4 linked regions of the Homo sapiens genome follow. The protein of the gene in region 2 purifies or fractionates together with the protein of the main gene of each other region. This does not show direct contact. Each region holds a gene or a part of one and is shown on either strand. Other genes may lie near its edges.

Region 1 (3,500 bases), on a different chromosome or scaffold from region 2:
TGGGGCCTTGGACAAGTAGCCTGGCTTTTCTGAGCCTCAGTTTGCCTTGTATTTGATCTGGTTCTCTTGCTGGGTGATTGTGAGTTAGATGGGAAAAAGGGGGAGAGTGGGCTGTGAAAAGCTTAGAGGGATGGGAAGAAGTTGGGGTGCGGTGTCCGTAAATAAATGTGCAGAGCCTTGCACAGGGCAGGGTCCAGGCACTCACGTTGTCACCAGAGGGGTCGTCCTCGGTGCCCGCCTGGATACCGTAGGCCAGGAAGCAGAGGATAGCCCCGATCCACAGCAGGATGGAGAAGCCCCCGAAGAGCTGCCGGCAAAACTTGACCCACTCTGGGGTGGTAGGCGGTGGCGTGAGTGCGTTAGGCCCATCCCGGGCCAGGATCTCCTGGGCTTTGCTGTGGGTCAAACCCTGAGGGACAGAGGACTCACACAGAACCCTCCCTGGGCAACCCTGGCACCCCAGGCCTTCACCAGACCCCCAGAACTTAAGACACCAGCCACAGCCCCTCCTCCCTCAGACCCAGGGGTCCTAGCCCCCAGCTCCTCCTCCCTAGTTCCCAGGGTCCCAGCCCACAGCCTGGCCACACCTGCACACAGTCTGTGTTGTATTTCCGGCAGACCTCTTCCACTGACATCTTGTGCTCTGTCTGAGGAACAGGAGTTTGGGGGAGACGGTGAGTGCCTAGGCCAGCCAAGAACTGGCGAGGTTCTCTGGGAGGGTGTGCGGGCAGAGGGCGAGGCTTACCATAGCCACCTCCTTCTTGAGGTCATCCAGGTCCCGGCGCTCCTTGCCCTTGTTCTTCTTGGGTGAGTCCTTGTCATCTTTCTTGTCCTGCGAGGTGGCGATACGATAGCTGTCAGAGCCACCAGACTGCGGGCGAGAAGGGGTTCCAGGAGGACACCGGCCCTCCATGCCCCAGCTATCCTCCTGGCCGGTGCCCCTGCATCTCTGGGTGGGGGGTCTCTGTCTGCCTCTCGGGGTCTCCCTGTGTCTCCCGGAGCCTCTGGGTGACTTCACCTCCCTTCTGCCTCTGGTGACTCTCAGGCCTCGTGAGTCTCATCTGCTGCAATCAGCTTCCCTGTCTCTGGTTCTGTGTGTCTCTGAGTCTCTGTCCCCGAAGGTCCCTGTCTGGCTTCTGCCTGTGTTTCAGTCTCTCTCTGTTTCTGTGCCCATCTTTGCGGGGCTCTCCCCTTTTGTGTTCTGTGTCTATGTGACTTTGTTTTCGTTTTTTGAAACAATGTCTCACTCTGATGCCCAGGCTGGAGTGCAGCAATCACAGCTCACTGCAGCCTCGACTTCTGAGGCTCAGGTGATCCTCCCGCCTCCGCCTCCTGTGTAGCTGGGACTACAGGTGTGTGCCACCACGCCCGGCTAATTTTTAATTTTTTTCTAGAAATGGGGTCTCACTACACTGCCCAGGCTGGTCTCTAACTCCTGGACTCAAGCGATCCTCCTGCTTTAGCCTCCCAAACTGTTGGGATTATAGGAATAAGCCACCGTGCCCCACCTCTATGTGACATTTTAACTCTGCTTCTGTCTCTTCTTCCCTCTCCCTGGCCCTGTCCAACCTTCCTACATATCTGTCTTTTTTTTTTTTTTTTTTTTGAGACGGAGTCTCGCTTAGTCGCCTAGGCTGGAGTGCAGTGGCATGATCTCAGCTCACTGCAAGCTCCGCCTCCCAGGTTCACGCCATTCTCCTGCCTCAGCCTCCCGAGTAGCTGGGACTACAGGCGCCCGCCACTACGCCCGGCTCATTTTTTTGTATTTTTAGTAGAGACAGGGTTTCACTGTGTTAGCCAGGATGGTCGCAATCTCCTGACCTCGTGATCCGCCCGTCTCGGCCTCCCAAAGTGCTGGGATTACAGGCGTGAGCCACCGTGCCCGGCCTCGTATCTGTCTTTTCTATGTCTCCACGTGTATCTCCATCTCTTTCTCCTCTGTCTGTCTCCCTTGATGTGTATCTCCAGGTCTGTTTTTGGCTCTTGGTCTTATTGCTTTGTTTCATCATCTCTCTGTCTCCTGTCTCTTTATCTCTCCATCTCTGTATCTCTGTCTTTGCAAGGCTGTTTCTCTCTCTTGATAGCTCTCTCTCTCTCTCTATCGCTCTGATCTCTTTATGTTGTCTCTGTCATTCTCTATCCTGATCCCAGTCTCTGGGTCTCTCTGCATGTGTCTTTCTATGATTTTGTCTCTCTCTGATCTCTGGTTCTTTGTCTCTCTGCCTTGCATGATGTCTGTCTCCATCTCTTGGCTGTGTCTCCCCAGGTCTGGCTGAGTTTCTGTCTCTCTGGGTTCTTATTTCCCTCTGAGTTGGCGTCTCAAGGATCAGTACTTTCTGTCTCTGTCTTTTTCCGTCTTTCGGTCTGTCTCTCTCTGTCATTGTGTCTCTATCTTCATCTCTCAAGCTGTCTCCTCTGGGATGCTCACATCTCTCCCTACCTGTCTCTTTTCCTGTTTCAACCTCTCTCTGTCTCTCTCTCTGTCTCTCTAATATCTCTCTCTGGGATCTGCCTATCTCTGTCTCTCTCCCACTCTCTCTCTCTGGGATCTCCTCTCTATCTCTGAATCTCTCTTTCTCTCTCACTATCACTAAGATCTCCTCTCTTTCTCTTTCTCTCTCTCTCTCTCCCTCTCTCTGTCTCTCTCAAATCTTCCGTCCCCCTCCTTCCCCATATATCTCTCATTCTCTTTCTCTCTCTCCCTCTCTCTGTCTCTCTCAAATCTTCCGTCCCCCTCCTTCCCCATATATCTCTCATTCTCTTTCTCTCTCTCCCTCTCTCTGTCTCTCTCAAATCTTCCGTCCCCCTCCTTCCCCATATATCTCTCATTCTCTTTCTCTCTCTTACTACCTCATCCTGGAATTTTCCTCTCTGTCTCTCTTTCTCCCACTGTCTCTCTCTGGGCTCTCCTCAATCTCTCTCTCTCTTTCTCTCTCTCTCTGTCCATATATATATATATATATATCTGTCTCTTTTTGTAGGATCTTCCTCTCTCTTTCGCTGTCTGTCTCTGGGATCTTCCTCTCTCTCTCTGTCTCTTTCTCTCACTTTCTCTCTGGGATCTTATTCTCTATTTCTGTCTCTCTGAGATCTCCTCTCTCTGTCTCTGGAATCTGCCTCTCTATCTCTGTCTATGTCTCTCTGTCTCTGTCTCTCTCACTGTCTCCCTCTGGTACCTTCCTCTATCTCTGTCTCTGCCTCTCTCTGGGATCTTCCATGTGTTGGGCCCATGGAGCGTCCTTAACAGAGGCTGGGCATGGCCAGGTTCCTGGAGGACAGAGCAGGAGAGTTAGAGGCAGAAGCCCTAGTCCTGGCTTGAACTGCGCATGGTGTGAGTCCCTGAAGTTCCAGTTTGGGAGCCTGGGCGGATGGGGAGGGCAGTGTCCGAGGCTGGTGGGAGGGGTGGGGCGAGGCTGGGTGCTGCAGGGGCCGCTGACAGGTCCCGCAGGCCCAGGGCCAAGCTGGGATCGGAGGCTCAGCGCGGCTCAGCGCTAATCTCC
Region 2 (5,258 bases):
CGTGAGCCTTGTTTGTGCCTCCCTCGAGGCCTCTCCAGAAATGCTGGCCAGTCACACCTCCTGATGGCCTCAGGGGCCCAGCCAGTGTGGGGGTGTCTGGTTACCCCTTGAAAAGCTGACCAGAGAAGACCCTGAAACTCCAGGGAGGGCCATTGAGCTAGGTAGACCCCTCACTGAGCGTCCTCCAGGCTGGAGCAAGCGCTCAGAACAGGCCGGTGGCTGTAAGAGATGACAGGAAGAGTGGGGCCTGGGGAGGGGGAATGATGGGTGTCGTGTCAGAGGTGGTCTCCTCTGGCTCACTGTCCCCATCATCCAGACCTTCGGCGAGGGAGGGGACTATGCGGACCAAGTTGTCTTCAAAGTGCACCTGCTTCTTCTTGGCCAGGGAGTCGGCTGGCTCCAGGCTCAGCTCCATCAGGGTGTTGGGGGGCTGGAGGGCACTGGGCTTCTTAGTCCCCTTCAGGATACTCTTCATGTGGATGAAAAGGGAGCTGGGCCCCTCCTTGAGGGCCCCATGGAAAGTGTAGGTTTGCTCTGTGTCCCCAGAGCCGGTGGTGCTCACAGCGCTGCTAGAGGGGTCTGTGTACTGCTCTGGGGAGGCCAGCACCTCGGGGGCAGCTTTCCTCTTCTTCCGCTTGCTCAGAAGGAAGTAGGCCAGGCCGGTGATGATGAGCATGGAGCCTGGAAAAGAGCCAGAGGTCAGGGCTCTAGAGGAGTCACGGAAAAAATCCGGAGTCCTTGCAAGCATGTCGTGCAGCAGAGCTCCTGCAACCCGGCGCTGTGTGGCCATTCACAGGCCCCTGTGGCCCTGGCCCTCTTGCCTGGCTTGTCCTCACACCCCACATCAGATTTGGGGGTCCACTTGGAGGCTGGGATGGGGATGCTAAATGGCAGGAAGGATGGAGGCTCTGCTTTTCAACATGGTCTCCCTGGAGGGCTGTCTTCCCTGTATTGTAGATGGGTTCATGAGGAGGGGGCACAGTTTTCACAGATAGGGAGCAGAGAGGAGAAGGACACTAGCAGAAAAGGTCGTGGATGAAACTGAAAAGGTGGGAGCAAGAAATCCTGGGTTCTCTGACCAGAAACCAGCTGGCCAGTGGTATGCACCCGTGAAGTGGAAGTAGGAGATGAGGCTGTGAAGATTTTCTGGGGTCCCACCCTGAAGTGCCTTTCAAACCAGGCTGAGGAGTTTGGACCTGAATGAGTAGGCACTGGGGAGATTCAGAAGGGTTTGGGCAGGGAAGTGGCCATGTCACACCCTTGGGAAGCTCAGACCACACATGGTCAGTGGGAGGAAAGGTGAGGTCCCCTTTGCGGTTCCACTTCTGTACGGCTCTGTGAAGGAAGGATGCACTTCTTGGGACATTCCTGCCATTTGATCAGCATGGAGTATGTCTGGCATTCCGATGATTCCTCATGTCCACCCTCTAGGTCAGAGAGGGCAGTGGGGCAGGTAAGGTCCCTGGAGCCACCACTGGAGCTAGACTTTGAGGGGCTCAGCTCCTCCTGCTCAGAGTCCACCTGTGCTGGGGCTGCATATCTCTACCCCTGTGCTCTTACCTGGGATGGTCACGTGCCAGACCAGGACCGGGTGGAGGAAGCAGGCCACCGACAGCAGCAGGTAGGCCAGGAACTTCTGGAAGCAGCCCAGCCAGTGGGCTTTCTCCCTTACTCTGTCTGCCAGGGACCCTGGTTGACACCTGGGGAGAGGGAGTCCAGGTTAGCATAATGTGTCCCAGGAAAACCCCAGCAAGACTGGATGCCATGGAGTCTGGGCCAGGCCCTGCTGTGGGCATGCTCTGCAGTGGGCCCTGGCTGAACAGAAAGCCCTAGCGGTCCTTGGTGTGGGTTCCACAATGAGTGGATTTGCCTGAGTCCCTCTAGAGGGTCCACAAGTTTTTGAAAGGCTGCCCAGACCTGTTTTTCTGGTCGAAGGGGAAGCAAGTTAAATGTTCTCAGGATGCTGCATGAGTTAGTGAGGAAGACAGCTGGAGGCTCAGGGCTCACTGGGAAGTCTGCACTAATGCAGAGAAAGTGTGCAGTTTGGGAGCCACCTGCCTGGGACAGTTGTGCTTGTAGTGCACTGCATAAGAGGCTTGGCCAGGTGAGTGAGCAGGCTGGCACCCAGCTGTGCCCTGTTCACCCAGCCTTGCTTAGGCACAGTACAGTGTTGGCCCAGAAGGGCTTCTTTTCTAACTGTATACACAGGGACCACACATAGCCCTGGCAGAAGCCTGATGCTGAGCAGCTTCCTTCAGGGGCGCTGCCTCCATGTTTCACAGGGGGCAAGTGCCTGCCTTTAGACCCAGCGCCTCCATCCTCTGAATTGGCCTAGAGCTGGGGCTCTACACAGCCACATCCTGCCCCTCTAGCTTTGAGGGAGTGCTCAGGCTGTCCAGGTGGCCCAAAGCACTGCTCTCTTATGCTCGCAGGCTGGACTGCCATGGCTCACTGGTGCCCCCTGGTGCCCATTCCTGCGTGTGTGTGGTGGCAGGGTGCGGTGGAGTCCATCCAGGGTCCATTCCTCCCCAGCCTTCTCCCCAGCTGAAGTTTCAAGCACAGCTTGGCAGTGGAATTCAGCAGAAAGGGGAAAGCTTTCTGCCTTAGGGCTGGTGAGCCTGAGAGGCAGCCAGTGGCCTTGCAAGGTGCTGGGACATCTGGATCTGAAGACTGGCTCTCTCACTGACCACCCAGGGACCAGTGTCTAGGTTCTGAGAGCCGCAGTCCTCGGTCTCACCGATAACAGCTTCCACATACTGAGTGTAGGCTGGGAAGCAGCAAGGGCCTCACGAGATCCTGCAGGGTCTGCACTCCTGCCCCACGAAGGGGTGTAGAGACATACTGCCCCTGACTTGCCCCCGGGCCCTAGGAAGAGACAGAGCCAGTTCCCAAACCCAGGTCTGCTCACTCCCAGCTGGGCCTTCTGCAGGGTCCTCACCCCATGGCAGATGGCTCAGACACTGGGGCCCAGTGACTGGCTGCTCCTGGTGAGGGGGAGCTGGACTTTTCTGGGGATTCTGGGCAAGGACAGGCCCTGAATGACTGTGTCAGTTGGTTCTCTTGGTTGGGACCAGGGCAAAGAAGGCAATGGAGCCCCTTGGGCCTGTGCCCACCTCCAGGCCAGGCTGATTGTACCTCGGTGGGGGGCTCCTGTCCACAGTGGCTTCAGGAGCAGGACATCCCCTGGTTGTGGGCTCTTGGGTGGAGACATCTGTGGTGTCTGGGGCTGGGGTGGACAATGGAGGGGTCTCTCTGGAAACTACTTACTGGAAGCAGATGGCCAGCAGCTGAGCCACAAAGTAGGCCCCTTCACATATGGAGACAGCGGCTCCTGTAAACCTGCAGGTGGAGACAGGTGAGGGAGGCTGGCGCCTCTGTCTTCCTTTGCTTTCCTGAGGGCTGTCTTCTCACACGTGGCCTCCTGACATCACATCTACAGCCAATGGACTCACCTGGATTCCCCCAGACAACATTCACCACGGGCTGTCTCCAGGACATGGCGTGTTCCGGACTGGGCCATGCTGGGGAGAGGTGGGGTCTGGGGTTCAGAGATGGGTGGGGAGGGCACCGTGGCCAGCAGGTGACATGGCCTTCACCTGGCACCCTGTGTGACACTGGCAGGCACATCCTTCTACCTGCTGGTCACCAGGATGGACACCCACTGCCTGTGTTCCAGCCTTAAACCTGGACCTGTTCCTGACCCTTTCCTTCTTCCTTTTCCTATTATCCAAATAGTCACCAGGAGCTGTTGATTACATTCCTTCAATACCTTCCAAATCGCTCCTGTTCTCTGACCTCATGGGCATTGCCTGGGTTCAGGCCCTGCCCCCTGGACCCCTGCACCAGTTCCACTTCCTCACTTACCCCAGGCCTGTCTCCTGCTCCCCCACTGTGTCACTCTGGGCTGCCTGACACCTGAATCTGATCATGTTCCTCCTGATACAGGATGCCTCAAAGGCTCCTTGTGCTCCCAGTGTGGTCCATGGATCCTGCAATCAGCATCTCCTGAGGAATGTGTAGAATTCATGGCTCCCAGGCCACCCCTAGACTCACATCAGAATCCTTGGAAATGGAATATGTACTTACGGAGGGTCTCACTGCCTATCCTCCATGTTCCCTTGACAACACAAGAAGCTATCAGGTGCCACAGGGCTTTTGCACAAGTGAGCTTTTCCTGGAAGGCCTTCCCCTTCCCTCTCCAGTCTGTCTGGTGACCTCCTCTTACTTCTCCATGTGGTACCATATGACCAGAGTCACTAGTCTGTGAACCCCCAGAGGGCGTTCCCTGTCTAATTCTTCTGTACAGCCCAGGCTCACAGTGGGTCGGGCTTATTGGGCTCCATTAATGAGCATTGCAATAAATGAAGGAATGAAAGTGGATAGTGTTGTGCAGAAGGTGGCTTGGGGTCAGGGTTTCCTCAGAGCCATGGGTGTTTCTAGATTGTGTGATCACAGGTGAGAGGTGTGACCTTTCTCTGTCTTAGTTTCCTCAGCTGTAAACTGGGGTTATTATAGTGCATCAACAGTAAAACTGTTCTAAGAATTAAATGATATTTGTAAAGCACTTAGGACCATGCTTGGCACACAGTGATTATATCAATTCTAGTTATCATTTCTCTCTCCCTGTGATTAGTTAGATCATTTAGTGATCTCCACTCCTCTCAGTCTCTATGCCTCCCAGTGTGAGCCTAACTCTTACCCCTTGGTTTTAAAATGATAATAACTAACATTTATGTAATGATTGCTATGGGCCAGGCATAATTCTAAAGGCCTTACAAATATCAACTCATTTAGTCCTTGCAACAATTTTATAATAAGTACTATATTATATTATAATAAACACTATAATTACTGTCAGTTTACCGATGAGGAAACTAAGGCACAGAGAGGTTTGCCCCATCACCAATGGCCCCTTATCAGTAGCAGGGGGAAGATCAGAACCTAGCACGCAGGCTCCAGAGCTTGTGTGCCTAACAGGCACATCAAGACGTGTTTTGCAAAATAATTGCCACTGCCTTTTTCTATGCCCTGGGACAGAGGGGTATATCAAGGCTTGGGGAATAAAGCGACTCATTCAGACTTCCTGTCTGGTGCTATTGAGTGGCAGGGAGGGACAGACAGGGCAGGTACTGAGTGCTGATCCTGCAGGTGTTAGAGAACAGGGCACAGCAAGGGGCAGGGGACCCCAGGCTGGACTGGACCACCCAGAGACCACATGGGCATAGGGTCCCCTCAAAACAGAGACAAAACAGGGTTCT
Region 3 (4,010 bases), on a different chromosome or scaffold from region 2:
AATAAAATGCGGCCTCTGATTCAGTAGCCTTGGACAGGACCAGAGGTTCTGCCTGTTCTGATGAGTTCCCAAGTGAGGCGGACAGTGCCAGTCCACAGACTCACACTTTGAGATACAACACCTGGGCCGTTGTGTCCAAATCCACTTGATAACCTGGAGCACTTATTAAATATCCAAATTGCCAGGACTTTCCTCTGGAAATCTGGATTCAGTATGTTTTGGTTGGAGCCTTGGGCATTTGGGAAAACTAGAATTTCTTTCTCTCTCTTTAGACAAAAGTCAACTACTGTTGAGGCATGGGCTTAATAAATGTTGACTAAAATATCCAACTCAACGACCAATCCTGTACAGTTTTCAAACGGTGTTAGTAACTTATTTGCAAATAATAAGGAACAACTTATTCCTCATCACACTGAGGAGCCGTGTGACCCATCGTGCTGGATCAGAGATGAACACCAAGCACGCTCCTAACACCAATGTCACCCTGAACGTCAACAGGAAACATTGGCCGTGGAGAAGTTGTTTAAACCTCTTGAAGCATCTTGCCAACGACGAGACTTCAATAATCCTCCTTTATTCACAAAAAATTTAAAACCAGTGGCAACAACGGCACATTACTTAATAAAGCAACTAAGTTAGAAGTGCAAGACACTGATTTATATGCTGTTGATAGGTCTGGAGAGACAGGACCATTCACTAGGCTGAAAAGGTGGTGGCCATCTGGTATCTTCCTAAAAAAGTTTATCAGGGTCCTGGCCAGGCGCGGTGGCTCACGCCTGTAATCCCAGCACTTTGGGCCGGCTGAGGTGGGAGGATCACGAGGTCAGGAGTTTGAGACCAGCTTGACGAATATGGTGTAACCCTGTCTCTACTTAAAATACAAAAATGACCCCAGCGTGGTGATGCACACCTGTAGTCCCAGCTACTCAGGAGGCTGAGGCAGAAGATTCACTTGAACCCGGGAGGTGGAGGTTGCAGTGAGCCGAGATTGTGCCACTGGACTCCAGCCTGGGCAACAAAGTGAGACTCTGTCTCAAAAAAAAAAATAATAATAATAATAGAAAATAAAAAATAAAATAAATAAATAAATAAATAAATAAATAAATAAAAAGTTTATCAGGGTCCTAATCCTTTCCCAGAAGGCAAACTAAAGCCTGGAGCAAGACAAGGTCTTCTCCAAGGCCACACAACTGTCAGTGACAGAGGATTCAGTTCAAAGTCCTGTCTTTTCAGGCCTGTGCCTACAAACCAACCGTTAATCTGAGTATTTCAACCTGGCCAAAGGCAACACAAAACACCCAACCCTATATTTTTGGGAAAGAAAAAAACGGGGGCAACTGAGCAGACAGACAGAGGCAAGTACAATGTGGCCTCCTAGATAAACCTCAATGCGCTTATTTCTTTTGGCACAGACACTTCCTTCTTAATTTTGAAGGAAAGTCACATCACATTACATTCTATCTGTCCCTAAGAATTAAACCCTGTTAGGTGAGCCAAACTTAAACACATTAAATTCTACAAATAGGCCAGGCACAGTGGCTCACGCCTGTAATCCCAGCACTTTGGGAGGCCAAGGCGGGCGGATCACCTGAGGTCGGGAGTTCGAGACCAGCCTGACCAACATGAGAAACCCCCGTCTCTATTAAAAATACAAAATTAGCCTGGCGTGGTGGGCCATGCTTGTAATCCCAGCTACTCGGGAGGCTGAGGGAGGAGAATAGCTTGAACCCAGGAGGCGGAGGTTGCGGTGAGCCGAGATCGCCCCATTGCACTCCAGCCTGGGCAACAAGAGCGAAACTCCGTCTCAAAAAAATAAACAAACAAATAAATTCTACAAATAGCCATTAGAATTATTAGGATAGAAAACGATGATGGGTACTAACAGATTCACTCAGAAGGAGTGGGCAGCTAATTCACATTATGTGTAGCTCTGGCTTGGAGAAGACACAGGGCTTGGAGGAGGCAAGACTGTTCAGCATGAATTAAAATTGATTTATGAGCTTGCTGTAGCACTTGGAATAGAAAAAAGAATCTTTTCAGCGCCTTTGACCCCTCTCTCAAATTACACCAGGGTGCAACTGAGGAACAACAGTGCCGACCACCCACTTTTCTCGACCCTTGGGGAAAATAACTTTTTTTTGGAAGGGAGAGTCAGTAGATGAGGCTGCATTTTCCACCAGGGAACACGAACTGCTGCGGGAAGATCCCAGCTTCTGGCTAAAGGAGCCGCAGGCCAGCTCGCCATCCAGTCCCCAGAGCCCGGGCTTTAGGTAAAGCGTGGAGATGCAAATCAGTTTCGCCGCCAAGGACCGGCCAGGCGCGTCTCCTCCCGGGCCTCGCAAGGAACAGGTCAGGGAGACGACTTCCAACTTTCTTGGCCGGACCCTAAACGTTCACCGCCCCTGCCCAGCCGCCCACTCCTGGGCAGCCAGCAAGTCTCCATTCACAAGCGGCTCCATGCTGCCCAGCACTGGCGCCCCTGAGGCGCGGAGCCCCGCAGCCAAATGACAGGACTTGGGGGCAAACAAGGACAAAAGTTCCCACCAGGTGGGCACTGCAGGAAGGAGGCCGACAACCCCGAGATTCTCCGAGTCCCGCGGCACGTGCGCTGCGACGCTGGCCGCTTCCCCCGCCGCTCGGGAAGGTCACGCCGCCCGCACACCGAGGCCCGCCCCGCGCCCCGCTCCCCGCTCCCTCTGCCTGGCGCGCTCCCCGCAGCTGCAGGCGCCAGACCGGGCTGCGCTCACCGCCGCGCCGGCGTGGCCGCGTCCAGCTCAGGCTCCGCCGCCCGCTCTCGGCTCCGGGTCGCCGGCTGGGGCGGCCACTTAACACCCACGTCGGCAACGGCCGGCCCTTCGCCCCTCCCTTCGCGCAGGCATCCCGGACTGCGGCCCCGCGAAGCTCAGGAGCGCCCCTGCGGCTGGCGGGCGGCCTGCCCAGGGCCGTGCCCGAGCCGAGACCGGGAGCCGCCACCGCCCACCGGCCCTGCCACCGCCCCCAGCACGGGAAGCGGAAGTGGGCGTGGGGCCGCGGCGCGCACAGCCAGCCCGCGACCCGGCGTGGTGCTGCCGCCGACCCTGGTGAAGGTGGAGAGCGGGGCCTGCGCCTCCGGAGACTTTCCCACCTCTGGGATCCCCGAGACCCTCTCTGAGGCCGGACCCTTGTTAGCCCGCTGGGCTGGGACTGGGGGCTGGGGGCTGGTAATGTCAGTGGTTGGGAGGACTTACTTTTTAGCTACTTTGACCTTGTTGGGAGGCTAAGGCCTTATTTATAAATTATATTTGAGTACAAAATTATACTCGGGATCCAAGGCCCTAATAGGAAATACAACTAAGTATGAAAATACAGGAATTAGCCGGGCATGGTGGCTCACGCCTGTAATCCCAGCACTGTGGGAGGCCGAGGTAGGCGGATCACCTGAGGTCAGGAGTCCAAGACCAGCCTGGCCAACATGGTGAAACCCCGTGTACTAAAATTACAAAAATTTATCCAGCGTGGTGGTGCGTGTCTGTAACCCCAGCTACTAGGGAGGCTGAGGCAGGAGAATCGCTTGAATCTGGGAGGTGAAGGTTGCAGTGAGCCAAGATTGCATCACTACACTCCAGCCTGGGCTACACAGCGAGACTCCGTTTCATAAAAACAAACAAACAACGACAAAAAAAAAAAGGTGTGGTGACACATGCCTCTATTCTTAGCTATTTGGGAGGCCAAGGCGGGAGGATCGCTTGAGGCCAGGAATTGGAGGCCGCAGTGAGCTATGATGGCACTGTTGCACTCCAGCCTGGATGACAGAGACCTCATCTCTCTCTCTCTCTCTCTCTCACCCACACACACACACACACACACACACACACACCCTCCACACAGTGTAATTTTATTTTACAACTTTAAGCCTTGTTTAGATGTGCTGTTGGATTATTATTTTTTTCTTTTTTTTTCTTTTTTTTTTTGAGACAGAGTCTCACTCTGTCACCCGAGCTGGAGTGCAATGGTGCAATCTCAGCTCACTG
Region 4 (3,500 bases), on a different chromosome or scaffold from region 2:
ATGTTTGTCTAACATAAAGTTACATTCTCTGCTGAGAGGTTTTTTCAAAAAATCACAGAACTTGGAACTACATGTAGAGTATGGTAGAGTGTCCCATGAGAGTAATAACGGACCATAGCAAATGTGTAAGTTTGGAGTACCTTTCTCCGTGTTGTAGTCCAACACTGTGGGACTACATTTTAGTCCAGGTGTATTATAGTGGTCAGTTGAATTTATATAGCATGAATGTTTGCATTAAGCTGTGCTAGTAAGAAGATTGATCCTTGGGGCAGATCAAGGATCCTGTTCTACACATTTTGAGGAAAACTAAAAAAATTTGTGGAGAAGTAAAGCATTTTAGTGATTAATAAAATGTAACAGTTAATAGTGCATCAATAATATGCTCACTAAAAGCCACATAAACAGTGGGTCATTTAAATGTTTTATCAGACTACCTATAACTCCATCTTATTTCTTCATTTCCATTTGGAATGCATGGAGTAATTCAGTAATTCATTGAGTAATTCAGTAATTCATTGAGTAAGACAAATATTATAAACAAAATAACTTTGAATTTCTGAGTCATGTGCAAACTTGGAAACTGTGTTATAAGTTAAAAAATTGTTTGCAATGCCAGTTGCAAACTGCTTCAATAATGTACAATGAGAAGAGACCCTATGGCCTAAGCATAAAGCTGACATCTTCTTAGTGTAACTTGTCTCAGACAATTTAGTGTATCCTCTCTGTAGACTTTTTACTCTTGGGAACGTGGAGAGCACTGAGACTAAGAGTTCGTTTCCTCCTTTCACTGTGGTGTCATCAGCCTGTCCTTCACATGCACATTTTCCCACACTGGACTCTTCAGTCTTCTGTCCTCTTTCTCACCCCTAAGAGCTTGGCACTCATATTGCAGAAGAAATAGTGAATAAGACTGATCTCATTTTACTGAATGTTAAGCTTCACATCTATATCAATGTGAGAAAAAGGTCATAACTTGGGGCATTTAAACCTTACCTTTACCTTTGTCCTCTTCTGTAGAAGTCCCTGGCTTGGCCAGTAGGCTGTTCATTTTGACAGATGAGTGGAAATTACAACCAAGCATAAAGCATCATCAGCCTTAATGCTTAAATAATTTTATGCACTACACTTTAATTAAAATCGATATAATTGATAATAAAAACAAATGTTTCAATATGGTAAAAACGCCATTGATACTAATGTTTAGTAAAGTTTTTTACTGTAACTGGATGTATATTAAATGTATATACTAGACCATTGATTGACAAGGCTATTACAATTATAGTTTAATTTTTTAAACTATAATTTCTATGAGTTAAAATACCAAGTGGTCTTCTTAATAAATTGTCATATGCTTTACTATTTCCACTTATCTTTTTATAAAGCCTTTGCCTTGATTAGAATGCTAATTTACATAAAATTAGTCCTTTCGAATTACTGCTACTACTTCAACTACAATGGTGTGTAGGAGAGCCTATGGTGGGAATGCTGTAGAACAGGGGTTTGGCAAACTGTACAGGGCCAGATAGTACATACTTTAGGCTTAATGCAACATACATTCTCTACAGAAACTATTCAACTCTGCTCTGGCAGTGTGAAAGCAGTCAGAAACGTACATGAACAAAAGAGTATGGCTGTTTCAACAAAACTTTATATACAAAAACAGGCGGCAGTGGATTTGGCCTGCAGGCCATACTTTGCTGACCCCTTTGGTAGAAGATATTAGGATGGTAGTTGGTAAAGGTAGGAAATGGGAGAATCAGAAAACAATCGAGAAAGGTGGTTTTTCAAATTATTTTCAAATAGCTTTCAAATAACATAAGCAGGAGATAAATTATTTCAGATTGCTTTCAGATAACATAAGGAAAGAGCTTTTATAGTGTGAACCAACCCTATGATACATAATTTTTATCTCAGACTACTGAAACATCCTAGAAGCTGCATCAGGATACAGTATTTGAACAGATTAAAGTCTTTATTATAAAGCTGATATAAGTTAGCTATGACCTATGAGCCAAATCCAGCCAAGCACCAGCTTTTGTAAGTTTTATTGGGTGACAGCATGCCCATTGGTTTATGTGTTGTTTATGGCTGCTTTTGCACTACAATGGTAGTATTTCTCAGATTTGTCCATACACCTCACATACATATGTACACACATATACCACAGTCCTCCAGTGTTTAAATCATTTTTAGTGTATAAATTAAAAACTCAATAAGATCCTTAAGATTAGAGCTTTTTCGTAACTCAAAACCAAAGCACTTTTATTGTCAAGTAGAATCTAAATTACAAAAAAAGATTGTTCTATAATATGGCTGACGTCTACTATTAATAATTTGTTGTGCCAAAGTGAATGTGGACCTGTCTGCTACTGTTCATGCTGTTGAGCATTCAGCCTGCATTTTCTGAAGCTGACTTGCTAGTATTTTTTTTTTTATCTACTGTAACTATTCTGAAAGCTTCATTTGTATCATGTGTTTTACATGATTTGGTCTTCATTTGAAAGATTTTCTGCCTCTGTTCTTCTCTCATTAGCACAAGACAGTTAAAGTAATGTTACTTAAAGCCAATAAGAACATAAATATAAACAAATGCCCTAAAATCAGGAACAATAGTAGGTTATATATTTTATCTTCTCAATAATCAAGAGCGTGTTTGAGTTTTCTTTACATTTTCATAGAAATCAAAACACAAAATTTCCCCTCAAATTCTTGGGCCCCTGAAAGTATGTCTGTAAATTCTGGTTTGAGAAACATTGATCTAAACCTATGTTTCATTGAACACCTAGACTGAATACTTGAAACTAAATAACATCAAATTCTCTGATGAGATAATTTAACCATGAATTGATTGAGATTAGGACATGTCTAAACCTCACTTGGATTTTCCGATACTTAAGAAACAGAGATCACTAGGGACAGGTTTACTTCCCATTTCTTTGACACTCTCAGAGGCTGTCAACCTTTTCTATCATGGACCCTTTCACAGACTGGTGAAGCCTATGGACCCCTTCTCAGAACAATATTTATAAGTGCATACAATAAAATACATAATATTATAAAGGAAACCAATCATATATAGTTTTCAAAATTTCTTTTAAAATTAAGTGTATGATATAGCGGTATTGCTTCTTTATTCATGCATTAAATACCAAGATATAATGAGAGTTCTGATAACTTCCACAACTGTCATATGACATGAAAATGCCTATGATTTCTATTGAAGACAAAGTCATACAACCTGCTAATATTATCACAGTTTGTTGCCTACATTCATAATTGAAAGAGATACCAGATTTTGGTTAGAAGTTAAAGAAAATGAAGGTGTAATTTTTTTCTTATCTTCACATTCGCAAATCCCTTGGGGTGTTAATAACCCTTACACTATAGTGTATATGTGTGGTTCATGTATGTGTGTATATGTAAAATATGCACTTACTACACATATTCATACCGTATGTTAGATCTTCTAGAAAGTAATACACCCTTAACCGTGTTATGTC

The links. Proteins that work in one complex are often made in the same cells at the same time.
Region 1: the proteins of TMEM72 (region 2) and ATP1A3 purify together in Homo sapiens (affinity purification with mass spectrometry; one large-scale study listed by BioGRID and IntAct). This does not show direct contact.
Region 3: the proteins of TMEM72 (region 2) and SLC25A15 purify together in Homo sapiens (affinity purification with mass spectrometry; one large-scale study listed by BioGRID and IntAct). This does not show direct contact.
Region 4: the proteins of TMEM72 (region 2) and PEX3 purify together in Homo sapiens (affinity purification with mass spectrometry; one large-scale study listed by BioGRID and IntAct). This does not show direct contact.

What each region holds. Positions count from the first base shown.
Region 1 is NC_000019.10:41,987,731-41,991,230, forward strand, and holds part of ATP1A3 (sodium/potassium-transporting ATPase subunit alpha-3), read right to left. Parts: intron 872-3,500; coding exon of another isoform or gene 833-871; coding exon 746-832; intron 648-745; coding exon 588-647; intron 410-587; coding exon 206-409; intron 1-205. UniProt on the Homo sapiens protein: This is the catalytic component of the active enzyme, which catalyzes the hydrolysis of ATP coupled with the exchange of sodium and potassium ions across the plasma membrane.
Region 2 is NC_000010.11:44,930,079-44,935,336, reverse strand, and holds part of TMEM72 (transmembrane protein 72), read right to left. Parts: intron 3,340-5,258; coding exon 3,268-3,339; intron 1,701-3,267; coding exon 1,561-1,700; intron 682-1,560; coding exon 203-681; 3' UTR 1-202.
Region 3 is NC_000013.11:40,788,401-40,792,410, reverse strand, and holds the start of SLC25A15 (mitochondrial ornithine transporter 1), read right to left. Parts: upstream 2,801-4,010; 5' UTR 2,748-2,800; intron 1-2,747.
Region 4 is NC_000006.12:143,485,305-143,488,804, forward strand, and holds part of PEX3 (peroxisomal biogenesis factor 3), read left to right. Parts: intron 1-3,500. UniProt on the Homo sapiens protein: Involved in peroxisome biosynthesis and integrity. Assembles membrane vesicles before the matrix proteins are translocated. As a docking factor for PEX19, is necessary for the import of peroxisomal membrane proteins in the peroxisomes.